Regions from separate parts of the Homo sapiens genome. Here all the other regions are linked to region 3. The links come from fine-mapping of genetic effects on gene expression. A gene starts in region 3. Each other region holds a variant in brackets. All regions are shown on one strand. Distances are between the middles of the regions. Region 1 overlaps LINC01397 (long intergenic non-protein coding RNA 1397). Region 2 overlaps STRIP1 (striatin interacting protein 1). Region 3 holds the start of AHCYL1 (adenosylhomocysteinase like 1). Region 4 overlaps AHCYL1 (adenosylhomocysteinase like 1).

Region 1 (5,000 bases), 110 kb after region 3:
TACTGCCAGCTCTTCCTCAGCCACACTTTGACTCTTTCACAGGGCCAGAGACCCATCCTGTGCATGCAGCTGTGGTACCACTGGAGCCCTAGATGTCTCTTTTCACCAAATCTTCCTTTTCCTGGATCCCCTTCTATTCTTTCTGCATGGTGACAGTTTGCAGTATATAAACTTCATGCTAATGTCATAGTAGGTCAAATTGGTTCCAGCTGCTCTCCTGGAGACACAGCGGCGTCCTAAGGAGCACCAGAAGACCTTTCTTTCTTCCTCAAACATTTATGGAACGTTACTATGGGAAGGCACTGAGATGGATGCCAAAGTCAGTTAAACATCTCCCACCCTGGAGCTGTGCAGTGTCTACACCACTGGGGAAATGAGACATGTATGTCAGGAACTTAGGCAGAAGCCTGAGTGAGTGTGAAGGATGCAGGAGAGAGAGAGATAAACAAGTGGCTACAGCGTTCAAGGGCAATGAGATGACTCTGGCTGGAGACATCTGAGAAAGCTGTGTGGAGGAAGTAGTGTTTGCTCTGGGTCCTGAAGGACATGCAGGGTTAGGCTGCATGGTGATGGGGAATGTTAGACACTGTGGTAGGCTGATGGGGAGGATATCCTGAGGCAGAGACACTTTCTAGTGCCCCCTCCCCAAACCTGACCTGAGTGGTGGTTGGAACAAGTTCATCTCCTTCAGTACATTTCACCCAACATTTGTTGAAATGAGTAACCAAACTGGGCACGTGTTGGTCACTGGGCATAGGAATGGAGGAAACAGATTCCTGCCTTCCTGGCTCCTGATGGTGTAGATCGCATTCCACAAATCTGCCAGGGGCTAGTCAGGGCTGCTGGGGCAGTGGACGGGGAGGCCAAGTAGACAGTGGGCAGGCCCCACCTCCACTTCAGCCAGACCAGTTTCACTTTTTCATTTTTCATGTACTGGGTTTCCATGAGGAGTTTCCTTTGGACGAAAAGGGTGGTTTTGTGGCAGAGAGAGAGTGAAAGAAGGAAAAGCCCTGGTTCACAGGCACCTGTGCAGTATGAAAACTAAGTGAATAATCTCTGGTTCACAGGCACCTGTGCAGTATGAAAACTAAGTGAATAATCTCTGGTTCACAGGCACCTGTGCAGTATGAAAACTAAGTGAATAATCCCTGGTTCACAGGCACCTGTGCATTATGAAAACTAAGTGAATAATCCCTGGTTCACAGGCACCTGTGCACTATGAAAACTAAATGAATAATCTCTGGTTCACAGGGGCCTGTGCATTATGAAAACTAAGTGAATAATCCCTGCTTCACGGGCGCCTGTGCACTATGAAAACTACCTAAGTGAATAATCACTGGTTCACGGGCACCTGTGCATTATGAAAACTAAGTGAATAATGCCTGGTTCACAGGCACCTGTGCACTATGAAAGCTAAGTGAATAATGCCTGGTTCACAGGCGCCTGTGCACTATGAAAACTACCTAAGTGAATACTTAACGAAAGATTGAGAGCCTGTCAGTAACCAAAGACTATGATTAAGCCATAATCCAATTCTGGACACCTGAGTTTCCATTTACCCCTCCCGCCCTCCACCACGTCCCCCTACCCTGTCCCAGGGTGTCTTCTGTGCCTTTCCTGTGTGTCTGTGGCCTGTGGATAGAGAGTGTACCGGATCGCATGCTACCCTTTTCTCTGGCATGGTCTTCCCGAGTCCTGCTCTTTTCTCCCACGCCCCAGCTGGTTGGGAGTGGCTGGGTTCCAGCTATTCCCAGAACACTCAGGAATCCCATCCTAATGATATCTCAAAGCCAGACCCCAAAGACGGGCGTCCACTGGGCTGAGCTCATACTCCCTCTTCTGTAATATCCCATGAGTTGCAATATGATAAAACGCCACCAGGGTGCAGGACAGAAACATGGGGCTCTGCTGTCTGAGGGCCAGGCTTATTTTCCACATAAAGGGTGGAGAGCTTACTGTAAGCACTGCCCTGTGGCCCCCACCTGCAAGAAGCTTATGGTCCCTCAGTGGCTTCAATGATACAATCCCCTACTCCTTAACTGGGGAGAGGAGTCTGTTGGAGTTGTAGCTGGAACCCCAAGTCTCTTCCAGCACTGCTCCACTTCCTTGCCCCCACAGCACGTCTCTGTGTGTTTCACCTACTTAGCTTC[T/A]GCCCAGGGTCCCCACTGGCTTCTCCACTGGCAAGGACCGAGGCCGAAGGAGCCTAGGCTTGGCTCTGCCTCCGCAAGAAGCCCCCAGGCACACATGAGGCATATTGACTCTTGTGGCTTCTCTTCATGTGGGACCTCTGAGGGAACAGGATGCTGGAGCCCAAGGCCAAGGCCTCTCTGCTCAGGGAAGACAAACCAGCTCCTGTCCCACTCCTCCATCCTGGGGACCCCCACCCCCACGCTAGACTGGGGTCTGCCCACAGGCCTGCCTACTTTCCCCAGCTGAGGAGAGGACAGGTCAGCCCCACTGTGCTGGGGCAGGGAGAATGCTGCTTGACAATGAGGCGTGCCCTGCGCATATGGGTGGGTGCTGGCAGTGGTGGCGGGAGGCTGCGAGCATTGACAGGTGACCGAGGGACCCCCATCTCCAGCTGGCCCTCAACACCTTAGCTCCTCAACCAAAAGACATGTATTAAGCACCTCCCTGCACAGGGCCCTATGCAAGGCACCATGGCAGGTGGGACAGTGATTTAGACACCATCCCCACGTGTGTCTGTGGACCCCACACGGGTGCTCTCATCTGACTCTGGCAGGCAGTTCTGTGTGTGGACCACCTAAGACTGTTGAGGGAGGGCTCCCTAGAAACATGCCCCGGGGGATGGGCTGGTGGGGCAGGCAGCAGGGGAGTAAGTGTCCCTTGTGGCTTTGAAGGAAGCATAATCTCCAAGCTCTGGGATAGCAGAGAGCATGCCTGTCGTTTCACTGCTGAATTCCCAGAGCCTGGCAGCAGGCCTGACACACAGTAGGCATTTTGTTAATGTTTGCTGAATGAATAACTAAGGGGGAGAAGTAAGAAGGCATTGAGACAAGGTGGTGGTTGAGCCTGGGACTCTGGAGGGGGTGCAGGTGGCTGGGTTCTGACAGTCCCCTAGCCAGGGCTGCTTCCTGGGTGACCAACCATCCCAGTATTTAATGGGAACTTCTGTGTCCTGGGAGGCTTCTCAGTCTGGGGCAAGCCTGGGTGGCTGGTCACCCTGCTGCTCCTCCCCTTGGGAATGGGCCATACAGTCAGTGCTCCCAGCCCTTTCCCTCCCTGGCCCTTCCTCCACACCCCCTTTCTCTTTCTTCCCTGCCCAGCGGGGTCTCCTCTCAGGAGACCTAGCCTAGCCTTGCCCCAGCCACAACCCCCCAGCCTGACCTCCGGGGCTGCCACTTCCCTTTCACTCGGCTACTCCTGATAAGGAGACTGGAAACAGGTTTGCCCTTTCACCTCTGCATATCTCTCCTCCAGCCTGCGGGTCCTCACATCCTGGGTCATATCCTGCGGGGGCCTGTGCACCACTGCATCAACCCCTGCTCACTTGCAGGCTACCAGCCCGAAGCTTTAGGTGGGAGAGGAGTGTGGGATGAGGGGCAGCAAGGCCATAGCCCTTGGGAGATGGGCCTCTCCTGTCTTGGCTGAGGACAGTCCAGGGGCCTGCTCCCAGGGCACAAAAGCTGGCTGGATAGGAGGGCTGAGCTGACTGATCCCTCCCTGGGATTTTGACTGACATTCTTGATGGAATTGACCGGATGTTTCTCCTTCACAAGAGACACAGCCTTAGGCAGGACAGCTGTGCCTTCCTCAGCCCAGCTGCAGCTGGAGGTGCTGAGAACCCAGAACCCACACTTCCTACTTTTGGTATAACATTGCTGGGCCAAAAGGTCTCCTGAGAAGGGCTGTGGGGGCTTCCACAGGGTCCTGGAGAGGCCGCAGGAGTCGCATCTGATTATCTCCTGACCTCATTCCTCCGGAGCTTTTGTCTCTGCTTGTGTCTGTGGACCCCACACGGGTGCACTCATCTGACTCTGGCAGGCAATTCTGTGTGTGGACCACCTAAGACTCAGAGACCCCTCAGGGTCGGCCCTAGGCCAGGCACTGAAACGTGCCAAAACCCACTCATTTTTGCAGAGTGCACCATCTGGGAACACTGCTGTCCAGAACTTCTACTCCCGTCAGAATGTGATCAGTTGCAGCTATTCTTTAAAAGAGTAATCAGTAATCTTTGCTGATTCAGAAGTCATTTCATGGATTTGCAGCATTTAGAGGGATACCATTGCTAACAACATCAATTTTGTGGCCTTGAGATGGTAAGAATTATCAGAGAACTTTTCCCTTTGGTGAAATCCCTGCACGGCAAATCCCAAAGTGGCCTGGAAGAGGGCAAGTTATCCACCTGCAGCCTGCAGGGAGCTGTGAAGGGAAGGGGGATGTTCCATCCTTGGTCTTAGGGTGGCTTGAGTGATTATGAGATTTGTATATGAATATGAGGCTCAGAGCTCATATATATATGTGTATATATATGTGTGTATACATATATATACACACATATACACACACACACACACACACATATATTTGAGACAAGGTCTCACTCTGTTGCCCAGGCTGGAGTGCAGTGGCACAATCTTGGCTTACTGCAGCCTCCATCTCCCAGGCTCAAACAATCCTCCCACCTCAGCCTCCTGAGTGGCTGGGACTACAGGAACGTGCCACCATGCCTGGCTATGTTTTGTATTTTTTGTAGAGACGGGGTTCTCACTTTGTTTCCCAGGCTGGTCTCGAACTCCTGGGCTCAAGCAGTCTGCCTGCCTCGGCCTTCCAGTGCTGGGATTTCAGGCAGAGCTCATATTTTTGTTTTAGCATCTTTTAGAGCTGTGTTTTTCAGACTTTAGTGACTTGAGTAATTTTCATGATTTTTGCCACATCTGAGTGTCACTTGTATCATTAACATTTTTCTTTAACTCATGCACAGACACACACACACACACACATCTTTTTAAAGGAAAATTTACATCCTTACTATAAAT
Region 2 (8,423 bases), 58 kb after region 3:
TCGGAGTCACCAGACCTGGAGTTTGAGTATGCTGACACAGACAAGTGGGCTGCAGAGCTCTCGGGTAACGCACAGACCTTTGTGTTATTTGGGGGTGGTTTTTTCCTTATTGGTCTTTAATAAAATTAATAATGAATATCATTTAGGGCTTCATTGCTTTCCCTAGTTCTATCAAATATATATATATATATATATATATATATATATATATATATATGTATAAAACATGTTATTTGATTCAAGCCTTGTGTATCTTATAACTTTGTGTTGTCCTTTACTTTTATGAAGCTGGCTAGAGCCCAGTCCCATTGTGAGACAGTGATGTTCCTTGGCTATCCACTGTGACCCTGACAGTGGTCTCTCCTCCAGCAATGGGTCATGAGGGATGCCTGCATCTGTGCCCATCTGCTGCTGCCACTGCCACTCTCATGTAATGCGAGGTCGGTGTGAGCTGCTTCTCCAGCCTCTACAATACACATCCTGCTCAAGAGGTAGCAGCCATTTGAGAGATGCATCCCAGGTGGCCGTCAGCCCTGGCATGGCATGGTGGGATGGATGCACATCGGACTGGAAGTGTCCAGATGGCATTCTGGCACTCTGGTTGTCTCTATTGTGCACATCAGAGCACTAAGATCCCCTTCATAATTAGAGAGCTTATTCCAGGAGTCACTATGACTCAGGGGCAGAGTTGAGAGTGGAAGCAAATGCCTTGCCTTCTCTGCACTTGTGAGACCTGGTGTGCAATGCAGACATGGAACCAATGGTGACGAGACTTTGTTCTGACAGAGCTTTACAGCTACACGGAAGGGCCAGAATTCCTGATGAATCGAAAATGCTTTGAGGAGGACTTCCGGATCCATGGTGAGATGATTTCCCACACTTCTTGCTTCCTTTGCCCTGCATAACGAGAGCTGCAGGTTTCTTTTAGGCATCTGAATGACCTGAGTCATCCTGGAACAGCCTGAGAAGCCTGCTGAACCCTGATGGTTCAAAGCCAGATACATGTAGAGTGGGCTTGTGGCACATCGGTGGGGGCTTTTCAGAATGTGCATATTAGGGGAGAAAAAAAAATCATGTGATTAAAATTGCACCCAAAATACCAGCGTTTCAGTTTGGAATCAAATTCATAGAGCAGCAGTATGATCTTACCACTTACATAGGGTGTAACTTATCTTTCTGGTCCTATGGCAGTCCTGAATTTGGTGAGTTAACATGGGTCCATGCCATTGTGAGGATTTTTCTAGGCTCAGGTGTAACTGGTTTCTTGCCCTGCAGTGACAGACAAGAAGTGGACTGAGCTGGATACCAACCAGCACCGGACCCATGCCATGAGGCTCCTGGATGGCTTGGAAGTCACTGCCAGGGAGAAGAGACTCAAGGTGGCTCGAGCAATTCTCTATGTTGCTCAAGGTATTGAGTGGACCTCCCCAGGGTTCCCTGGCACCTCTGCCCACTCAGATGCAGGGAGGGGCTCAGTGAGTTGAACCCTGCATTGCAGGCACGTTTGGGGAGTGCAGCTCGGAGGCAGAGGTGCAGTCCTGGATGCGCTACAACATCTTTCTCCTCCTGGAGGTGGGCACGTTCAATGCTTTGGTGGAGCTTCTGAACATGGAAATAGAGTGAGCATTTTTGAGAGGCTGAGTAGGGAAGGGGAGGCTGGGATGGGAAGGGGGACAGAGCTTGCAGAACTAACTGGCTTTGAGAGGGTTAAATGGGGCAGAAGTTCTGGTCCCAGGCTGTGTTCTGACCACCTGGGTTGAATAACGGAGTTGGTCACTTACACCTTGAAGATTAATGGAGACTAATGACAGGTCCCTGCAGCTCCCTGATGCCAGAGTTTTTACACCAGACAGTGCAGGCCCTGCCCAGGCCTGGGGTGCTCCTCAGAAGGAGACTCTTCACTTTGAGCTCTCTTTTGAACCTGCAGACACTGCTGTGTTCGCCCTGCAGTTTCCGCCTTGGCAGGAGGCCAGGCACAAGACTGACATATGGGCTCAACCAGTGCCTGGCCTTGCCTGTGTCACCTTTGTCCAGTGGACAGGTCAGCTGCTGCTCATCTAAGGATAACACCATCAATGATAAAGCTAAGACAGCTCATTGAGTGCCTGTGTGTCCCGGGCATTGTTCTCAGAATATTACATGTGCTAATTCATGTTAAGGATATAGGTACTACTGTCATCCCCATTTTACAGATGAGGAAACTAAGGCGCAGTTAGAGCCAGGATTCAAACCGTGGCAGTCCAGTGCATGGCTGGGTTTTTTGTTTTTGTTTTTGTGTTTTTTTTGTTTTTGTTTTTGTTTTTGAGAGAGAGTCTTGTTCTGTTGCCCAGGCTGGAGTGATATGGCGTGAACTTGGCTCATTGCAACCTCCACCTCCCGGCTTCAAGCTATTCTCCTGCCTCAGCCTTCTGAGTAGCTGGGTTTACAGGTGCCTGCCACCACACCCAGCTAATTTTTGTATTTTTAGTAGAGATGGGGTTTCGCCATGTTGGCCAGGCTGGTCTCAAACTCTTGACCTCAGGTGATCCACCCGCCTCGGCCTCCCGAAGTACTGGGATTACAGGCATGAGCCACCATGCCCAGCCATGGTCTGGTTTCTTAACCACCGTGTCCTGTGGCCTCTTGTGCAGTCCAAGCACGTATCACAGCATTTTGTTTCCCCATTGGTCAGTACTTGTCAGGGACATCACTTATCTTCCTTCTTGGAGGAAGATGCTGACTCTCAAAATCTCCTGCAGCAACAGTGCCGCCTGCAGCAGTGCTGTGAGGAAGCCTGCCATCTCCCTGGCTGACAGCACAGACCTCAGGTGAGGCGAGCAGCAAGCCTGGGCTCCTGAGCGTTAGTCAGAGATGAGATCAGAGCAGGGTGTGGGAGGCTGTCTGTGGGTGTCATTGCTGTGTGTGCTTCTGTACACATCATCTGCATGTGTGATGGGCTCAGTGTGAATGATTAGTAGGAACTGCTGAGGGCTCGTCCTAGGTGGGACTCTGGGTTGAGACTCCCAAAGGCAATCCAGGGTCAAGTGACTTACTAGAGCCACAGCTAAGTGTGGCCTCCTACTCACACTGTTACTCAGGACCTGGTCGTGGGGTATTTTGTATTTGGATGAAACACTTGATGGTGTTCCCTGGACTCCCACCTTCTTGTGTACACAGCTTGATGCTCATCTTCATTGGGTTAGACCTGACAGCTTCCTAATGTTTCATGGCTGCCCAGGAGCTCACAGCAACTGCTGACCACCAAGATCACCCCTCAGTTTTTGAGGGTTGAAATCTGGCTCTTTTTATGAATTTGGAAGTTTTTAGACTAGGTGGTTGTAGTGTTGCCTCCCGGGTGTTAGGATCCCTGGGCGTCACCTCTCAGCTCCTGCTTTCCATTTCCTCATCATAAACCCTGTTTTTGTTCTCACTGTGACCCTGTTCTGCTTTGACCCTACAGCTCGCTACCACCTCTGTGGTTTTTTTCTTTTCAGGAAGCTTAGGGTGGTAAATGCTTTTGGCCATTCTTGTTCATACTCATTTATTCAGATACCATTTATTAATAGTAAGCCCCTGCTTTGTGTAAGCACTTTGTTAGACACTAGGGTGCTCCTTTGACCCCCCCATCCCACTCCATTGTGAGCTGGCTCTTGTCCTCAGGGTCCTGCTCAACATCATGTACCTGATAGTGGAGACCGTTCATCAGGAGTGTGAGGGTGACAAGGCTGAGTGGAGGACCATGCGGCAGACCTTCAGAGCCGAGCTGGGTAGGACCCTGGGGATCCTCTCTAGAGGCCCTGCCTGGAAGCTGAGGCGGAAGGCTTTGGGAGGGTCCTGATACCTTTGTGTCACCTCCAGGCTCCCCGCTGTACAACAATGAGCCATTTGCCATCATGCTGTTTGGGATGGTGACCAAATTTTGCAGTGGTCACGCCCCTCACTTTCCCATGAAGAAAGTTCTCTTGCTGCTCTGGAAGACAGTATTGGTGAGCACCTCCTTGGAGGAGGAGAACGGTGCTATGGGATGGGCAGTAGGGAGACTGTTCCTTGAATATCCTTTTGAATATTGAATTATGTGACTGTAAAACTGCTTTGGTAAAAAAAATTATTTAAAAAGCTGCTAAAAGGAGATGACAAAAGAAGGGCCACTATTGTCCCATTGCAGCCAACGAGGACATAGGCCTTGAGTCAGAGTAGGCTGTTGGCTCTCTGACCCCGGAAGCTGTTTTCTGTCATAGAACAGCTCTCCCCCAGACAAGTTGCCTCTCAGCAAGCAGCTCTGGACCTGGAGTTTGTAAAGGGATTTGAGGCAAAGTTACAGCTGATGTAATTGGGGCCCTGGTTGGATATCACTTAAAGGGGCAAGAGTGAGCCCTGAGCCAGCCTCCATTTTCTTCAGGGTATGGTGTCAGCCCGACTCTGTGTCTAGGTAGGGAGGGACTGGGTGCCAGAGTGGGCCGTCCAGCACACTGGGCTTGGAGC[G/A]TTGTTAGCAGCCAGGCCATGCCAGGAGGCCTTCCCAGGAGGAGTGACATGGGGAGGCGGTGGAGGTGAGTTGGGCCTCTGCTACACTGGGGCTCATCCTTCCTTTCAGAATGGGTCAACTCTGGAGCCAGGGCTCAGTAAGTATAGGATTTCTTAAAAGTCATTGACACATTTTATCTTGGCCACACATTCTGTTCTTCATAAAGCCTTGCTAAGGCTAGAGAGGAAAGCTGAATTGCTCAGAAACAGTAAAACTAAGCAGTCTAAAGCTGGATGTTGCTGGCGTTTCTGCTTCTTGGGAGATGTTTAGATGAAGCTTTTTTTCTTCTTCTAAAGTTGAGCAACCAACAGTATTTCTAATTTGACTTTGAAAGACTTGCATGTACAACTTGTGAAACATGAGTCTCACCAACTTTTCTAGGAACTTGCAGGGTTAGGCTCTTTGCTTCTTTTTAAATTGAAGAGTATGTCATAGGTGCAGAGTTAGTGTATCTGCACTAGGGTCAGTCAGCCTGCATCTCCACTCTTTCCTTGTTCCTTTTTCTCCTTTCCCTTGCGGATGTCACGGAATTCTCCTTGGGAGTGGCTTCAGTCCATTGTTCAGGAGTTGCCTGGGTCTCTATAAAGACATGGGTCATGATGTCATGAATGTTTCTGAGCCTGACACAATGGTCAGGGGCCAGCCTGTGGACACATTGACCCTGGCTCTGCTTCCCTGTCTGTGATGCAGTGCACGCTAGGCGGCTTTGAGGAGCTGCAGAGCATGAAGGCTGAGAAGCGCAGCATCCTGGGCCTCCCCCCGCTTCCTGAGGACAGCATCAAAGTGATTCGCAACATGAGAGCAGCCTCTCCACCAGCATCTGCTTCAGACTTGATTGAGCAGCAGCAGAAACGGGGCCGCCGAGAGCACAAGGTGAGGACGACAGAGGTCCCTGTGACTCCTGAGGGCCCTCAAGGTGCATGCTTGCAGCAGCACAGTCCTTGGAGGAGCAGGGCTGCTGGAAATGATCTCTGATCAGCCAGTCAGAATCATGCCTCCACAGCGAGGATACTTTGTCCCCAGCTCTGGTCCAGTGTATGGTGAGTGCTCAGCACGTGGTGCTTTTGAGGGACTGGAGCAAGAAGTAGTTGATGGTTTGGCCCCCGTCTTGACTCCCACTGTGGTTTTTCCACTGTTCTTGCCTCTACTGGACACCTGTATGTGCTGTGTCTCCTCTGGCTGCACTTCCCTGGTCTGCGTCCTCAGTTGGCTCTTGTCTCATCTCCCTTCCCTGGTTTCAGGCTCTGATAAAGCAGGACAACCTAGATGCCTTCAACGAGCGGGATCCCTACAAGGCTGATGACTCTCGAGAAGAGGAAGAGGAGAATGATGATGACAACAGTCTGGAGGGGGAGACGTTTCCCCTGGAACGGGATGAAGTGATGCCTCCCCCGCTACAGCACCCACAGACTGACAGGCTGACTTGCCCCAAAGGGCTCCCGTGGGCTCCCAAGGTCAGGTGAGTCTCAGACCTCCAGAGCACTCATAGTTCCTGAGGCAGAGCCCTCACACCCTCAGGCCTGCCACCTGGCCTGTGTCACCATGTGTGGTCCTCTGCAGGGCAGGCTGACCGTGGCTCTGGGATGAGGCTCTCTTAAAGCACCCTGTGCTGTCCTGAGGGTCTCAGGGAGGCCGGCCTTGCTGGTCTCACACAACATGGCCCTCATGTGGCTACTGAGGCAGTAATTGGAGTTAGCTCTTGGTTAGATGTGCTAGTGAAGGGGGATAGGAAACAAATAAAAACAAAAGCATTTAAGCAAACATGTCTCCACCCATCCTGGGGTTGTGTATGGTTTTTAACAAAAATGATAGATTAAGGAAGAGTTTCTTTAGAGCCATAATGAAAATGTTTGAGATATATGTGGGTAAATCGATGGATGGGACGGTACCTGGAGATATATAAATGGTGTCTGTTTGATAGGCAGCAGCTTAAGAAATAGATGAACATGTGAGAGGATATAGAAGTCGCTTTCTTGATCCAGGTAAAGCCTCAGTTTTCAGTGATCTGTGAAGGGAATGCAAAACAGATCATCAGAAAATGCAAGGTATGCTGATTGTTTGGGATAGGAAAAGTGAGCTATATGAAAAATCAGTAGCCTATAGCTTTAATTGTTTAAAAGTTTTAATATTTAAGAAAGTCTGTTGACAAACTTGTTCATACTATCTGAATAAAGCATGTTTTTAAGTTTGATATATCCCTTTAATTTTATGAATAAACTAGTTAACATGTATTTCCAGGTTACTGATCCAGCAAAATTATAAGAAACATTAAAATTCTCTGAAAATTTCAGTTTTTTCCCTTTTTTCAAAGAGAAAAACAATTATAGGAGACTTCTCCTGGCTTCACAGTTTCTGGATGCTGTGTTTTTGTTAACTGTAACACTTTGAAATAGCATTTGCTAAAAACCTTTTTTCTTTCTCTCTTTTTTGGTGATGTGGCAGAGAGAAAGACATTGAGATGTTCCTTGAGTCCAGCCGCAGCAAATTTATAGGTTACACTCTAGGCAGGTGAGTAAAAGCCGAGTTCATTTTGCTGTTAGCTCTCCCGGCCTTTGGTGTTTGGGATCCCAGGTGATTTGATGTCGAGGCTCAACACAGGGCCTTCTTTATTCTCCAGTGACACGAACACAGTGGTGGGGCTGCCCAGGCCAATCCACGAAAGCATCAAGACTCTGAAACAGGTGAGTGGCTTTGGGTGAGCTTTTGGCTTGTTTGGTCCTAAGTGAGTAGAGTGAAACCAGCCTGTAGGGAGAAGCCTTTTAAGACTGTTGTCTGCCTGCAAGAACCTGGGGTAGAGGCCGGGGTGGACTTTGCAATAACCTTGCAAACAGTCTTTCGTAAGTTTTGCTTGTTTTATTATAAGTTTTACTTGTTTTAGCTGAGCTTTTGTTTGGGACTGACTGGGAAGTCTTTAAAGATTATATTACCTGACCACCGGGCACCAAGGCATGCACCTGTAGTCCCAGCTACTCAAGAGGTTGATGCAGGAGGATTGTTTGAGCACAGGAGATCAAGGCTACAGTGAGCTATGATCATGGTCCTGCACTCTAGCCTGGGCCACAGAGTGAGACCCGGATTCTTTAAAAAAAAAAAAAAAAAAAAAAAGGATTATATTACTTGACAGTTGTTGAAATTCTAAAGAGCTCAATAAATAGCCCTCCTTTTCCTTGCCCACGTTCTCAGGCGGTTGAAATAGAGGAGTAGGCAGATGGAGATTGTAATGCCAACTTTATAGCTCATAGAGCCATGGAGAATGAGGCTTAAGAACACAGCAGTAGTGTCCTAATACGTTGTTCCAGAATTAGGCAGAGTTACCTACCAGTCCCAGGCAGTGTGGGGAGGCTCTGCCAAGCTTGGTGGCGGGGAGGAGAAGAGAGCAGACTCTCAGCAGGCAGACAGGTTCTAAAGAGAAAAGAGAAGGGTGAGGACAAGTCCGCCCTGTGTCCCCTCCCATACTCTCCGATCAGAGAAGGGAGGAGTGAGTGTGTGGACGGGGCAGAGAGAGATGAGGGGTGTTTCGCAAACCCCTGTCCCTCCACACGGGAGAGAACATTAAGAGTGGGGAAGAGGCATCTCCCCTAACAGCTATCTGGAGTGAAACTGTTTTTATGTTTTTGAAATATATTTTTGGAATTTGTAGTACTAAGTGGTCTCTCTGCAGCTAGGCTTTTTGAGTACTTGATTTTGCTTTCAGTTTTTCTCCTGTTGCTGTAGCTATCTGAAAGGCCATTTCCCTCCTTTAATTTACTTTTTTCTTATCTACCATGGGCTTCTTACTGTAGTTGCAAGAGGAAGGGGCCCTTTTAGAAAAATATTTTGGGGCCAGGCATGGTGGCTCACGCCTATAATCCCAGCACTTTGAGAGGCCAAGGTGGGTGGATCACCTAAGGTCAGGAGTTCAAGACCAGCCTCACCAACATGG
Region 3 (6,958 bases):
AATACAAAAGGACATGAACCTACCAATCACAGGTATGTAAAAATGAGTTTCTGCAAATTGCTAAGAACTAGGAGTGAACTTAACAAGATGAAAAGAAATTTTTAAAAAATCTTCATGGATTTTTCTTTCCTATAATGTTCAAAATGATAATAAAGAGTAAGTGATCCTAATAAATATGACAATAATAAGCAGAGGGGGAGACAGAGAAGGAGGAATGTTTTCCCACTGGAACTGGAGAAGGGGAAGGAGAAAAGGCTGAGGGTAGGGAGGGAGGGAGCTCGGTGGGAAGTAGGAGCCAGGAAGCCTGAGGACCAGCACCCACAGCCACAGAGGTGCAACCGGGAGCCCACCCTCTGGGGGTCCCTAAGGGCCAGCGAGGTAGGTGACCAATCTGAAGTGGTGCTCCAGGGCACCTTTCACAATAATTACAATGTCAGTGGTGCCTCCTAGAGCTGTGCAAGGTAGCAGTTCTGGGACAGAAAGAAGCCTGGAGCTGGAGGGTTTGCCCATGCTGGAGAGCTAGAGACAGAGCCACTGCCCTCTTCACCTTCTTCCGAACTTCCATTGTCACCCAAGATCTCTGCAGTTTTTCTGCACTTTCATTCCAGAGGGCTAACATAACACCTGGCCGACAGGAGGTGAAAGGCCTTCAGGAGGAGCACAGCCTCCCCCTGGTGGGGAGCCTGACTGGCAGGGAGCGGGCAGTTCCAAAAGGTGCCAACCTGGGCTCCCCTGAGACTCAGGGACAGTGCCCTCCACAGACATATCAAACTCAACATGTCCCAAGCTGACTCCTCTCAGCAGCCCCCCTCCACCCCTCTAGCCACACTTGCTTCTCCTCCTGTGCTCCCCAGCATGGCAGACATCACCACCACCCACCCAGGGCTTAACACGCCCTGCAGGATCTGGCCCTGGCTTCAGCGCTCACTTCACCCTGCTTTGCACCCTGTGCCCCACCCACATGGGGATATTTACAGTTCCCGTAATATGCCAAGCTGTTTCCATCACCATGCCTATTCTCAGGCTGTTTCTTCAGCCTGGAGAATCTTCCCTCCCTTGCCCAGCTGCTTATCTGTCAAGACTCAGCTCTGGCAGCATCTCCCTCTGTGTCATCCCTTTGCCCTCCACTGCACCCCACCCCCATCACCTGTCCCCACGTAGAGATCAGCACCTCAGCTTATTTATCTCTGTAGTCCCGACTGACATCTAGCCCTGCTGCTGGCACTTCTTCGGCACTCAATATATATTTTATAAATAAAAGAACAAATGACTGAATGTAGAACATCAATTTGGGGGTGGACAAACAGTGAATCTGATTAACAAGACCAAGCCCACGTGTGGTAGCCCAATGCCACTACATTTCTGGTGACAGCATCTCCCAATTCACCACTGCCCTTAGGCCACTCCTTTCTAGCAAGGGTCTTCGCTCCAGGCCCTTGGAGACTTCCCACCACCACACACAGCAGGTGCATCTGTCTTTGGGTCCCTGTTCTTCTCCAATTGCCCCGTGGGGGGTCTCTCACCTGTGTGTGGATGCGCTGTTCAGGGCAGTGAGCTTGCCAGTAGAGGTGCTGAGTCAGGTGGGTGGGTAGGCTGAAGACAAGTCATCTCTTGGCATTCATGAGAAGCAATCGCCTTAGCTGTGCCATGTGAGGCTATCTTAGGATGGGTTTTGGGGGTGGGAGACAGGATGCAATGATTCTCACGGATGTTATGTTGTCACACTCCCTGGCTGGGTGAGCTCTTTGCTCTCCAGCACACACGTGATGGAAGGGATGGCAGCCACCCATGCCCCCTGCAGTGGCTGGTTTCCAAGAATGTCCCGGGCCCCTGGCCTCACTTGAACCACATAGGCCTAATGCTTTCCACCAGGGTAGGGGGTGCTGCCCTTCCCCTTTCCAGTCTGAGTCCCCGAACTCTCCTACATCAGCTCATCAACCTCCCCTCAGGCCAGCCACTCAGGTGAGTGGAGTCTGACCTGCTGATCTCCTTCTTAGCCCAGACTGCTAAGGTACTGCATGCTCTAGGCCTGGCCCTGTCTGTCATCCTCTGTAGCAGCAGCAATAGCAGACAACACTGTGAGCCTGGTGCTAGGGCAGACCTGGTCCAGGAGGAGTAAAGACTGAACTTCAATCTCCAGGAAGCTCACAGTCTGGATGCTTAAATGCACAGCAGAACTGGGGGACTGAGAGACAACATGTTTAGACAAAGTGAGTTCTAAAAATCAAATCCAAAAGACAGATACACTGATGCTTCTCTTTAAAAAAAAAAAAAAAAAAAAAAAAAAGATCTTCTTAAGTCACACATTTTTCTACTATAGGGACTTGAGATTTCATCCCTGGTTCCAATGGGTTCTGCCTCGAGTCTTTGGGCAGGCATCTCTGATCCCTGGGCTCTGCCAACAGTTTGGGCAAACCCACAAGGATGAAAGCCACTGTGAGCCTTATGTTCAGAGAGTCCTTAGTGCACCAGGTGTGGTTCCTGACCCCTAGCTGAAAGATGTCAGTCTGGCACCCTCATGGATGAACCTGGTATTCTGGTCTCCATCTCTGTTCCCGTTCTGCTACAGTGATGCCCCTGACAGGGAAGTGTGAGTGCTCAAAAAAGTGAGCAGATGAAAGAATACAAACAGTTCAAGACCAAGGTCTGCAGATGTGCAAAGGGTGCATTCTTCCAGGCACTTCTACAGCCCTTTTCAAACAGACAGTCTCATGAGGCTAGGTGGCTGGAACACAGGATTCCCTGACTAAGACTTTTAGGGCCCTAGAGGTGAATATTTCACACTCTCCCCAGCCCTGAACACAAATCAGTGGGGAAAATGCCATTTCAAACCAAAACTTCCTTCTTGAAAGGGTATGCCCTGTTAAAAACCTGGGAGGTTTCTGGATGTTAAAAGGTGGTCCTGGCCAGGCGCGGTGGCTCACGCCTGTAATCCCAGCACTTTGGGAGGCCGAGGCAGGTGGATCACGAGGTCAGGATCCGAGACCAGCCTGGCCAAGATGGTGAAACCCCGTCTCTACTAAAAATACAAAAATTAGCCGGGCACGGTGGCGCACGCCTATAGTCCCAGCTACTCACTCAGGAGGCTGAGGCAGGAGAATCACTTGAACCCGGCAGGCGGAGGTTGCAGTGAGCTGAGAGCACTCCAGCTTGGGCAACAGAGCGAGACGTCATCTCAAAAAAAAAAAAAAGGTGGTCCTGGGGAGGAATTTAGGGAAAGGGCACTGGGAAGACTGGAATTGCTCAGCACAGCAGAGGAGAATCTGGCTTCCCAGAGTCTATCAAGGAAGGAAGGATGAGGTGCAGAGATGGGAAGGGAGGAACAGGAGGAAGCTAGATTAGATGGCAATGGGCTAGGGAGCGTGGTGGGATCTTGTGGCCATTGAGAAATCCCCGGGTGGTAAGACAGCCAAAATAACTTTTCAGAACATTTCAGAAATGTGTTCTTAAATTGTTTGCTGTGTGATGTAATCTCTCCCCTGTGACCCACAAACCTTTATTAAAAGTTTTACTACATGTTACAGCCTTATTTTGTAGTTGTTTAGCATGGGGTGGGGGTTGAAAGGAGAAGCGGCTGAATTGACCCCAGGAGCTACAGAAACAGTCACAAGACCAGAATAGTGAATAAAATGCCAGACAAGGCAAAAAAACTAGAGCCAGAGGTGACCATGAAAATCCAAGTCCTCCCAGTAATGGACTTTCCACAGGACATGGTAATTGGAGCCAATGTCATTTGAATCTCAAAGGACAAGCTACCTCAGCTGACATTAGGATACAAGCAGGTTTTGCCTCTCCAGCTGAACTAAGCCTTGCAAAACATAAAATGCGTCACATGTCCTTTTGCCAGCAGGGCCTCAGCACAGGCACTGCACATAGTAGGCCCAGTAAAAGGGTGTGAGCAGTCCATGAATGTCCTGGATGCCCACTGAGAGCTGGAAGGGTCTAATGCTTTGGTGGAGCAAGGACCGGAAGGCCATTCTGGCTGGGGACTTCTCCATCAGCTCTCCTGGTCTCCACCCTCATACCCATCAGCCCTATCCCAATGAGGGTTTTGTAAACAGGCAAGGCCCAGTCGGAGATGGTGGTGGAGGAAGTCACAAAGCGTTGTGCAGAAACCAGACTACTCTGAGTCAGTTCTGCCCCCTATGAAGTCAAAAAGACAGGCACGGCCCCTTGGGAAGGAGCTTTAATCCAAAGGGCCTGGGGCTGGGCCAGTGAGTGAGTGGGCTGTCTCGAGCCCCGGACATTTCCTAGGAATCGCTGTAGGATGTGTCGTGTGGGGCTCTGGTCTTTGCTCCCAAACACCCCTTTCATGCGCCTCTGAGGCCTTGCCAGGAACCCCGCAGCCCAAAGACCCTCCGTTCCGCAGCATCGTTGCATGAACCTCGCGCTGCTCCCAGGGCTGATGGTGCCACCTGGTGGCACAAAGGGTCCTGCTCACCCTGGGAACTTCGCTCTCGAGCGGGAGAGGAACGGCTTCTGTGGCCCAGCCCAGCGTGGTGACGTCACGACAGAGTGCCCTTTCTCCCCGCCTCTTCCCCCTCCCGGGAGCTGCCAGTACTTGACGTGGCGTCACCGCCCTCTACCCTCGCTTTGCGTGCGTGTTTGCGTACAGCGGAGGTGGCGGCGCGGGCAGGTCGGAGCTCGGAGCTGCTGTTCTGGTTCTCTTGTGGCCGCCGTCGCTGTCCGGCTGCCTTGGGCTGCCGAACAGACAAGGCGTGGGCCACAGCACCTCAGAAGCCGACGCAGCTCGACGCAGGGGCCGGCAGGAGGGTGGGCGATCGCGTGTCGGAGGGCGCCGCGCGGGCAGGCGGGCGGGCGCCAGAGGGGGAAAGAGGCGGGGGCGGCGGGTCAGCCGCTGGCCGGGCCGGCCGGGGAATGTCGATGCCTGACGCGATGCCGCTGCCCGGGGTCGGGGAGGAGCTGAAGCAGGCCAAGGAGATCGAGGACGCCGAGAAGTACTCCTTCATGGCCACCGTCACCAAGGCGCCCAAGAAGGTGCGGGGGCTCTGGGTGGCGGCGGGGGCTCGGGCTCCGGCCTCGCGGAAGGGACGCGAGCAAGCCCGGGCTCTGGCTAGTTTGGGACTTCTGGGGGTGACTGGGGACGGCGGAGGTGATGTAGGGGGTGGCGGCTGTGCGGCCCCAGGCCTCTCCCGGGCTGAAAGGCCGCCTCTGACCTCGCTTTCCTTTGTCCCTCGGCCCAAGTCCTCCGGGATCGTTTTGAAACCCGACAGGGCCAGGCCTTAAATTTGCGACTGACTTTTCCTGGATGAAGGGCCTCGAAGACGAGAGTGGGAGGGGGTGAACCAACTCAGCTGACCCTTGTGACCAGTCCGGGGGCATGGGGTGTACAGAAAATCTCCCTTCAGGTGAGTGGGTAAATCTGGCAGAACTTCCATCAAATCTTTGGGAGCAGTGGCCGCTTTATCCAACAACTGCGTGATAGCTGGGAGGCAAGAGAAAAGAATGCGTGAAGCTAGCTCTGATATACAGGTGAAAGCGATGAGGGTAACATGAAACTGAAAATCTATGATTTTCACTTTCTACAGCATTCCAATTACTTCGAAATATGTAAGAAATTGACATTTGGAGGTTGGTGACAGCAGACACTGTCATGGATACAGGTGGATCCTAGAGTCATGTGAATAGATCACTTAGGCATCCCTGGAGAAAGGAGCTTGGGTGGGTTGGAGTAGTGGGTGGTAAGGGAAGATTGCTCACTCTTGACTGTACTTTTGAGGCAGAACAAGTTTGATCTATTGTGCTGTAGGTTGACTCAAAGGACACCCTTCGAATTCTCTCATAAATGGCAACCTTTGGAGATTTTAGTCTGACTAGCTCTCCGAGTGGTGGAATTGGGATCCTTATTGCTTTCTCATCATTTACTGCCAACCACATCTTGATTTTCCATACACCTGGCACCCAGTTAGCAGTAGACCAGAGAACCTTTACAAAGAGGTGACCTTCCTGAAGCCAGTGAGAACCCAGATAAATGTCTCCCTTCTTTATAAAGACAGAGTCTTACAAAGCTGTCTCTGCCTGCATCCAGTGTTTAATGGGATGCAGGGCTGAACAAAGCAAGGGCTGCAGGAATAGTTAAGTCCTTGAGGCTTCAACTAGTTAAGCTGTCTTAAGTGGGAGAGATGGCTCTTTTTTTTTTTTTTAAGTGAATTAACCTGCCACTCCAGAAATCAAATGCAAGATCAAAAAAGACGAGTCGCCATTGTGTGCTTTCGCTGTTTTCTCACAAAATTAAGAATTTAATTCCTTTAAAAGATTGTGGAAGATTCCTTGACTCTGAGGCATCTGATTAACTTTAGTGCTGAGAGTTCAGTTGACTGCTTTGTTGGGACAATGACCCTTTGCAATCTGCACTATTCTTTGGAGAAACAGTCACAGTCCTTATAAGCAGAATGATTGAGGGTGGGACCTTAGATGAGTTAGAGGAAAGAATGGGAAAGCCCTAATACCTGAATTTCCCAGACTCTGTCTTCTTTGCTGTTACTTGCCTTTATGTTAGTAAATCTGTATTCTTGAAAGTACCACTGTTGATAAGACAAAGTCTATATCGTAGATTGTAAAAACTCATTAAGGCAGGGATTCTTGTTCACCTTTGTATCCAGTGTGCCTAGCTTTGTACCCAGCATACAGTAGGTACTCAAATATTAATTGCTCACCTGGCTAACTAGTAACTGAGATGTCCATGTGGCCACCTACCATGAATAACTATCCCTTTTCCTCTCTTCTTCCCAGGAGGAATATTACTAATGTGTATTATTGTCAGGCCAAGTGCTGATGATTTTAGACTTATATTGCATTAGCTAAAAGAAGCAGGCTCTGCCAGGAATGTGGGAAGACCCTGTTTTAAGTTTCCATTTACCAGTAAATGTGCCCCACCGTGTTTCTTATTAATCTTTCTCTTCTAAGTTTTATTCTTTAGCATTTACGTAGTACTTTG
Region 4 (8,423 bases), 33 kb after region 3:
GGTGGCCCTTCTCTTCCTCACCCTGTCTTCCTACACTTCTACACAGGTGTTGATTGAGACACTCTGTGCCCTGGGGGCTCAGTGCCGCTGGTCTGCTTGTAACATCTACTCAACTCAGAATGAAGTAGCTGCAGCACTGGCTGAGGCTGGTAAGTTCGGTTTTTTCCCACCAACTTTGCCCCAAAATAGTTATCCAAACATATAACTTTTTTGTATCAAAATTGTCATTACAATATCATATATGTCTAGAGGCTATAAAATTGTGCATGATAAAAACCTCAACAGGAAGAAAGTGGATAATAAAATTAAGATGGATATCCATGGTGGAATATTATGTAGTCATTAAAAATGGCCTTTGAAAATAATCTAATGGCATGGGGTCATGCCCAGTTCTAGTGTTAGTTGAACGAGGAAGAATGTTAAACTATATAAGTGCCATCAATTTTGTGAGAGAGCACAAGTAAGAAGTACCTTTCATATTGATAGTGCATTAAATAATTTGGTATTCAGTATGGCATTGAAAATATATGAGCTATTTGTGAGTTTAATTAAACGTAAAATAATTTTTTATTATTCAGGCCAGGCCTGGTGGCCCACGCCTATAATCCCAGCACTTTGGGAGGCCGAGGCGGGCAGATCACTTGAGGCCAAGAGTTCAAGAACGGTCTGGCCAACATGGTGAAACCCCACCTCTACTAAAAATACAAAAGTTAGCCGGGAGTGGTGGTGTGCGCCTGTAATCTCAGCTACTCAGGAGGCTGAGGTAGGAGAACCACTTGAACCTGGGAGGCAGAGGCTGCAGTGAGCCGAGATCATGCCACTGCACTGCAGCCTGGGCGACAGAGTGAAACTCCATCTCAAAAATTAATAACAATAATAATAATTTTTATTATTCAAATATTCAGAAGAAAATCACCGTGAAGTTTCTTTGAGGACCTCTCATCTTTCTTTCTTTTTTTTTTTTTCTTAAGATGGAGTCTTACTCTGTTGCCCAGGCTGGAGTGCAATGGCGCAGTCTCGGCTCACTGCAACCCCTGCCTCCTGGGTTCAAGTGATTCTCATGCCTCAGCCTCCTGAGTAGCTGGGATTGCAGTGGCATGCCACCACACCCAGCTAATTTTTGTATTTTTAGTAGAGATGGGGTTTCACCATGTTGGCCAGGCTGGTCTCGAACTCCTGACCTCAAGTGATCTGCCTGCCTTGGCCTCCCAAAGTGCTGGGATTACAGGCGTGAGACACCACACCCAGCCGGACCTCTCATCTTTTTAAGATCCTCAGAAAGCAACTTTATAATACTTTTGGGTTTTTTTGTTTATTCTTTTCTGATAAGTGTTCACTGCAAAAAATTTAGGAAGTTCCCCAAAACCCTACAATCCCACTACATAGAGTATTTGATTAATGTTTTTCCTTTTCCTTTCTTCTACTTTACATAAATTCTAATATGTATACAGTTTTATAACCTAAATACAATATTTTCAGACGTAGTTTTCCATGTCACTGAAAACTTTGACAGCATCATTTGTAATAGTCATTCATATGGCTATGTGATTTCACCTCACTATTTTCCTAATGGAGAACATTTAGGTTGTTTCAAGATGTTTACTAATATCAATAATGCTCCAGTTAACAACTTTTATTAATTCCCACTTCATTTTATCTCCTTCTAAGTATAAAATTAGTCCAGAGAAAGGAACACTTTAAGGTTCCAAACTACTTTTAAAGCAAAAATTCCTTAATTTCTTAACCTAATTAATTTCTGAACCAAAAGTGATTCTTTGACTTTTGGCTCTGAATTTTTTCCCTTCTGAAATTGTTTCTTTTGCCTTTTTCTCTTCACATGGATCTCAGAAAGTGATTTGGTACAGGACACTCCTCAAAGGAGGAATCAGCTGATTCATTTCTGTCTCTACAGGAGTTGCAGTGTTCGCTTGGAAGGGCGAGTCAGAAGATGACTTCTGGTGGTGTATTGACCGCTGTGTGAACATGGATGGGTGGCAGGCCAACATGGTAATAATGCATATACATCCTACACTTTGACAATAGATTTATTTCCTTTTTTTCCCTCAAAGCATGGTTCCCTAAATATGTTTTGGATGTTTGGTCTTATGCACTGACTTTGTTGCTAAAGTGTTTAGCTTGATACCTATTCAGAATGGGTCTGAGTACTGAATGGAAAGGTGGGGGAAGGGTAAGACTAGCTGAACACATGGCTCAAACACACCAGAACAAAATAGTGGTGCTTCTTTGGAGTAGGATTCTGCTTTCTTTCCTTCCTGCCCCAGTTCTCCTTTTGCATTCAAAGGGGCTATATATTTCAAGACTCTAGACTAAAAATGAGTCTGTGATTAGCTTAATACTCATCACTGTAGCCTAAAGCAAACCTAGGAATCCTTTTAACCATTTTACACCAACAAATTTGACTGTATTTCCACTCTCTAAGCCTGCTCTAGGGAGCTCTGAGGAGTACTCTTCCAAAACATACAGGGCTCTCTTACTAGTACAGAAAGTGGGTTCAAAGTTCCCCCCAGCCCTAGCAGCCTGAATGCCCATAGAAGTCTTCTGGCTGTTCTATAGATCCTGGATGATGGGGGAGACTTAACCCACTGGGTTTATAAGAAGTATCCAAACGTGTTTAAGAAGATCCGAGGCATTGTGGAAGAGAGCGTGACTGGTGTTCACAGGTAACAGATTCTGGAGTAGCTGCCCCTTGTGTCCTTGCCTCAGCAAACTCTCCTGGTCTCTGTTAGGCTTTAGGACTGTGTTTCAGACTTATAACTAAATGGGAATATCTTCATTAGATAAAATTTTGAGTTTTTACTTTTGAAAAATCAAGTTGATCCTAGAAGGAAGTTATTTCAGGTTCTAGTTCATACATTTTTCTCTCCCATTTACTCCATTGAGTGATTCTCAACTAGTGTTGAGGGGCGGGTAGGGAATAAATGTATCTTGAAAAACTGTATTCAATATTGTATTATCATTTTATATTTGAAATATGAAAAACAATCCTATTGTAAAACTACATGTTATACACACTACAAAAAGTAAAACTGGGCAAAATATTCTTGGCTTGTTGGAATACTGAAAAGATATCTGAAAGAGTGTTTCTTGGGGGCACATTGCGCATGCTTACTCACACACACACGGAACCATATCAGAATCATTGATAGTCTTTGTTTATCAGAAGTAGGCATGGGTTTCTATTGAAAAATGCTGATCAAAGGAAATAACACTCCCTATAAAGGGAAGAGAAGTACATTTCTTCAATTGAAAGGCTTTTTTTTTTCTTCCAAAAAAGGGGTAAAGGGAGAAGAAAATGAAAAGAAGTGTGGAGGGATGACAAGGAAATAATCATGTTTTCTAATATCCTTGGGCAATAAATGAGACTGGGAAGGGCAGCATGGAACTTGAAGAGAATTAGGCAGATTTTGCCACAAATTATGTTGTGCCAGCTAACTTGGTTTTTGTTTGTTTTTGTGACCTCTTCTCTCTTTAGGCTGTATCAGCTCTCCAAAGCTGGGAAGCTCTGTGTTCCGGCCATGAACGTCAATGATTCTGTTACCAAACAGAAGTTTGATAACTTGTACTGCTGCCGAGAATCCATTTTGGATGGGTAGGTTGAATGTATATATATTCAAACTTCTAGGGGCTCTGGTCTTCCTTTGGCTTTAAAAGTTTATTAGAGGGACCATTTCATACTGAGCTCAACCAGCTTCCAATTGATATTCTCATGGGCATTGGCCCACACTTTTAACTTTGTGAAGAGGGACTGAGTTTGAGCTATTAACGTTTGAGTTGAGCCCTTGTCTGTTTCCACAGCCTGAAGAGGACCACAGATGTGATGTTTGGTGGGAAACAAGTGGTGGTGTGTGGCTATGGTGAGGTAAATAGCTGGGTCTCAGTGTCTCTTTCTTTTTGTGTACTTATTAGAAATATTGGGTAAAGGAGGCTTGTGCTGTCAATCTAGAGTCACTGATACAAGGTTTAAATTTTTTTAGATAATGTATCTCAAACAATAGCAAAAGCCTTTTATTCAGATTTATGAATAGAAACATACAAAATGAATTGAGTTTTCAGATTTTACCATTTTGCCTTGTGGAATAGATACTAGTATCATCTTCCCCAATTATAACAATAACCTTTAATGAGACTTAATTCAAGTGAATATATAGCATTTTAGCCCCACAAGTGACTTGCAGTAGAATTAAGGGTGGAATCTGAAATGGCATATAGTTGAATATCTCCAAACTGGAATAGGTCACATATTTTGTTGTCTTCAGCAATGACCCAAAGAAGTTCCTGAGCTACGAGGGTATCCTTGAGTAGATTCTTCTCAAGTAAGAGAATAGGAAATTAGAGGTTGCTTAGAGTAAGTTGCTTTTGCTTAGTCTTGTTTCCCTGATGAAAACTGCTATGCAAAGCCCCAGTCCTTCCTATGACATGTCTGCTAAATTACCTCTCTAACTGAGGTTCACAACGTAATCTGGGTCTGTTTCTGTTCTGCTTGGGATTGGAGCGTCTGTGCAGCTGCTCACCAGATGACAGGCTATTTCATGAAGGTTAATTCCTGTCTCACAAATAACCTACCTACCCTAAATATCCATGACTTAATGAACCTAACGACTTGACCTTTCTTTTGTTCTGCAGGTAGGCAAGGGCTGCTGTGCTGCTCTCAAAGCTCTTGGAGCAATTGTCTACATTACCGAAATCGACCCCATCTGTGCTCTGCAGGCCTGGTAAGAACAGAGTGATAATACTATTAGATTCACTCTAGGTGCTTTATGTTATTGAGAGTTCATAATTGAGTATATTAATCATTTTTGCAGAAATCACCTAGGGGAAGAGAAGGCTAGGACTGCTCTGTTCTTCTCACTCTAACCCTAGGGCTCTCTGAGAGCCTCTTGGCATTTTTCCTTCCTAGAGGGAGTCTTGGGGACTCTGAAGAGGCCAGTGTATATAGTTTAGCAGAGCTTATCACTCACCATTCCTGTGAGGTGGCACTGGATCCAACTAGAAGGGGATCTTGTCTCATTTCATGACCATCTTCCCTCCCACTGCCTTCTTGCTTTACTCATAGTGTTCCTTTCTTTTCTTCCAGCATGGATGGGTTCAGGGTGGTAAAGCTAAATGAAGTCATCCGGCAAGTCGATGTCGTAATAACTTGCACAGGTAAATAACTTGCATAGAGAAGTGTTTATTCAGAGGCTAAATCTTGAAAGTAGTCTGAGTGACTTTCATACAAAGGAGGTGAGACCTCTGTTCAGTATAAAGGTCTCAGAACTAGAATAAGCTATCAGAACCTTAACATGTTTTCCAGAGTAAAAAACTTTTTTCCCTGGTGACTTTTTATACTGCTTGATCTGAAGACCAGATAGCCTAAGGAGCGGTTATGCATGTCTTCTCTCAGAATGTCTACATGTTCTTTAATGCCAGCAAGCCTCTGGTCTCCTATGTTCTACCTGAAAGCCAGCCAGTACCTTTGTTGCCCGGCATCTCTTTCCTTAACCACCCATCTTTTCTTTTAGGAAATAAGAATGTAGTGACACGGGAGCACTTGGATCGCATGAAAAACAGTTGTATCGTATGCAATATGGGCCACTCCAACACAGAAATCGATGTGGTAAGGCTTCTCTCATTTGTTGCTAGGCATTTCTCTACTACCTTTCATTAATAACCATAGTCAACTGTGCTTTCTTCCTTTCAGACCAGCCTCCGCACTCCGGAGCTGACGTGGGAGCGAGTACGTTCTCAGGTGGACCATGTCATCTGGCCAGATGGCAAACGAGTTGTCCTCCTGGCAGAGGTACACACAGAGAAGGACCCTGGCAGAGCAGCACAAGCAGAGTAGTTAGATCTATGAGGGGGGAGGGGAGGGAAACAAATATTAGGCCTATGTTTCCCTGAATTTTATCTTTGGAGAGAGAGATATTTCACAAATTGGTCCCCAAAATAAAACCACTTTAAAAAAATCTACTTTTTACTAAGTAACACTATTTCCTAACCACAGCTGATTCTTTAACCTTTCAGACTCAGATGGATTTGCAGAAAATAGGAAAAAGCCTAGAGTCCTGATCTGGAACTGTAATTCTTCCTCTTCCAACTGAGTCTAGAGGG[G/A]TGTAAAGTCCTCTCCCGCTTTGGCTTGACTTGTATGCCATTGGAATCTGAGACAGAGCTCATCCCAGGGCTCTCTCTTACCTTTCCAGGGTCGTCTACTCAATTTGAGCTGCTCCACAGTTCCCACCTTTGTTCTGTCCATCACAGCCACAACACAGGTATGTGGCAAAATGCCTGCTTACACTGCACTGCAATTTGTGGAACTGGGCGTAGATCAGTTCCAGTGAGGGTGTACTGTACTATGTTCTCATCATCCTATTCTTTTTTGATGTAATAAATTGTGGAAACAGGTATTCTTAAGTATAGAAAAGAGTCACTAAGTCAGTATTCGTTGAATTGGCTGTTTTAGTTGAGAATATAATGTTCCAGCTTAGTTTTATTTGATTTGTTCTTTCGTTAGGAACTAAACAAAAACAACAAATCCTCTTAGGATGTGTGCTGCCCTTTAGTATAGGCAAAGTCCTAGGTACTGTGACTGTGGTAGATCACTGTAGTACTTACCCAAATGCTGTTTAACCTGGTTTTATTTTTATGTGCCTGTCTAAGAAATATTTTTGTGCTTTCTGGCCTTCTTTTCCCACCTTAGGCTTTGGCACTGATAGAACTCTATAATGCACCCGAGGGGCGATACAAGCAGGATGTGTACTTGCTTCCTAAGAAAATGGGTGAGTGAAAAACAGTGGAAATCTATGCAGACAGCTGCATAGTTTGGTAAAATGACTGCCATGAAAGGCATTGGATTTAGAGTCAGAGTTCCAATTCCTGTTCCTGTGCTTACTGGTTGTTTGACCTCAGGACAAGTTCTAATCTCTATGATCCTCAGTTTCTTGATTGGTAAAATGAAAATAATACTACATACATTGTAGAATTGTGTGAGAATCACAGCTAATGAGTAACAGTGCTTAACACAATGGTTTAGGGAGATGTTCTTACTCTAAGTAGCCTTATGAAGTTCAGTAAACTTCCCAGTGCAGCTGAGTACATACAGCCTTGGAACAAAATGAGAGAAACAAACACAGGTTTTATTGTCCATTTTCTGTGAGGATATGCAAACCATCCAATCTCTTGTAAGCAACCCATGCTGTGTTCATGTGACATAATACATCATCTCTAGTCCTTTGCCTTTCTGCACGGTGTACCCATCTCCCATATCTCCTTGGCTAGCCCAAATCCCTGACTTCTTAATGCTAAAATACTTCTTGCTCTCCTCTCCTCCAATAGCTTACTTCAGACTTTTTTTTCAGTGTATAATTATAAAAGGGAAGCTTATCTATGGAAAAGTAAAAATTCTGTGCCGACTACCTTAGAAATTCATGATCCTAAGATCCATGGATCTTATCCTAAATGAGTGTTATTGACACAGGGTCTTTCTAGCTTACTGGTGTCCACTTTGATTGCTAATTTGACTATAATCTAGTTAAGGAGGTTGCTGCAGGAAGGTAGGAGTAGCATGTGACATGTGGGCCACTGCAGGGAAGCCCCCTGCTTTGCCAGAGAAGGATAGAGAGGTAAAAGCCCACTCCCTTTTGTTACCCTGGTAAGTGGCTTTTCTGAACGCACTGTACATGTGCTGAGAGAAGCATCCTGCCCAGAAAGGCAGCTTTGAGGTTTTTTTTTTAATTAAGCAAATATTTCAAGTTGTGGATTCTTTCAGAGTTATTCCATCCCTTGTCTGCTTTCTTAAAAAAGCTTCAAATGAAAATGGGAAGTTATAACTTGAGAGACATTTTGAAAAGGAGTCTGCTCTCCTGCCACTTTGCTCTTCCTAGATGAATACGTTGCCAGCTTGCATCTGCCATCATTTGATGCCCACCTTACAGAGCTGACAGATGACCAAGCAAAATATCTGGGACTCAACAAAAATGGGCCATTCAAACCTAATTATTACAGGTAACCTGGGGAGAAGCAAGTGAAAAGCTCTTTTTCCCAGTATTAAACCAAGCAGGCTAGCCTGCTTCTGACATAAAGATCAAATGTTGTACCTGATTTTGAAGAATACAAGAAATCTGTTCCAGGCCAGGCACGGTGGCTCACGCCTGTAATCCCAGCACTTTGAGAGGCCTAGGCGGATGGATCACTTGAGGTCAGGAGTTCAAGACCAGCCTGGCCAACATGGCGAAACCCTATCTCTTAGCCGGGTGTGGTGGCGGGCACCTGTCATCCCAGTTACTCAGGTGGCTGAGGCACGAGAATCACTTGAACCTGGGAGGCGGAGGTTGCAGTGAGCTGGGATCATGCCACTGCACTCCAGCCTGGGTGATGGAGTGAGACTCTGTCTTAAAAACAAACAAACAAACAAAAAAACTGTTCCA

The links. PIP is the estimated chance that this variant, and not a neighbour inherited with it, causes the effect. A credible set is the group of variants that fine-mapping cannot tell apart.
Region 1: its variant is the best candidate, but not a certain one, in a credible set for the expression of AHCYL1 in whole blood (TOPMed, PIP 0.64).
Region 2: its variant is the best candidate, but not a certain one, in a credible set for the expression of AHCYL1 in whole blood (INTERVAL, PIP 0.70).
Region 4: its variant is the best candidate, but not a certain one, in a credible set for the expression of AHCYL1 in whole blood (INTERVAL, PIP 0.61).

The regions. Positions count from the first base shown.
Region 1 is chr1:110,086,378-110,091,377 of GRCh38, forward strand. The region is part of intron 1 of LINC01397 (long intergenic non-protein coding RNA 1397); the gene reads left to right. Among named protein-coding and RNA genes, the nearest start is that of LINC01397, 6.2 kb to the left of the region's middle. The variant T/A (reference allele first, on the strand shown) is at 2,151.
Region 2 is chr1:110,037,897-110,046,319 of GRCh38, forward strand. STRIP1 (striatin interacting protein 1) reads left to right here. Exons shown (of 21, transcript NM_033088.4): 2 at 1-64; 3 at 787-861; 4 at 1,276-1,410; 5 at 1,499-1,619; 6 at 2,739-2,807; 7 at 3,640-3,746; 8 at 3,838-3,965; 9 at 5,192-5,374; 10 at 5,743-5,960; 11 at 6,944-7,009; 12 at 7,119-7,182. Among named protein-coding and RNA genes, the nearest start is that of STRIP1, 7.5 kb to the left of the region's middle. The variant G/A (reference allele first, on the strand shown) is at 4,462.
Region 3 is chr1:109,980,175-109,987,132 of GRCh38, forward strand. It overlaps AHCYL1 (adenosylhomocysteinase like 1), which reads left to right and starts at 4,591. Exons shown (of 17, transcript NM_006621.7): 1 at 4,591-4,998. The coding sequence starts at 4,879. RefSeq lists silencers at 4,817-4,886, 5,067-5,136.
Region 4 is chr1:110,012,851-110,021,273 of GRCh38, forward strand. AHCYL1 (adenosylhomocysteinase like 1) reads left to right here. Exons shown (of 17, transcript NM_006621.7): 5 at 47-149; 6 at 1,913-2,007; 7 at 2,575-2,681; 8 at 3,494-3,610; 9 at 3,817-3,880; 10 at 4,645-4,733; 11 at 5,096-5,166; 12 at 5,523-5,617; 13 at 5,702-5,800; 14 at 6,201-6,269; 15 at 6,698-6,776; 16 at 7,881-8,001. Among named protein-coding and RNA genes, the nearest start is that of STRIP1, 18 kb to the right of the region's middle. RefSeq lists an enhancer at 5,168-6,367. The variant G/A (reference allele first, on the strand shown) is at 6,112.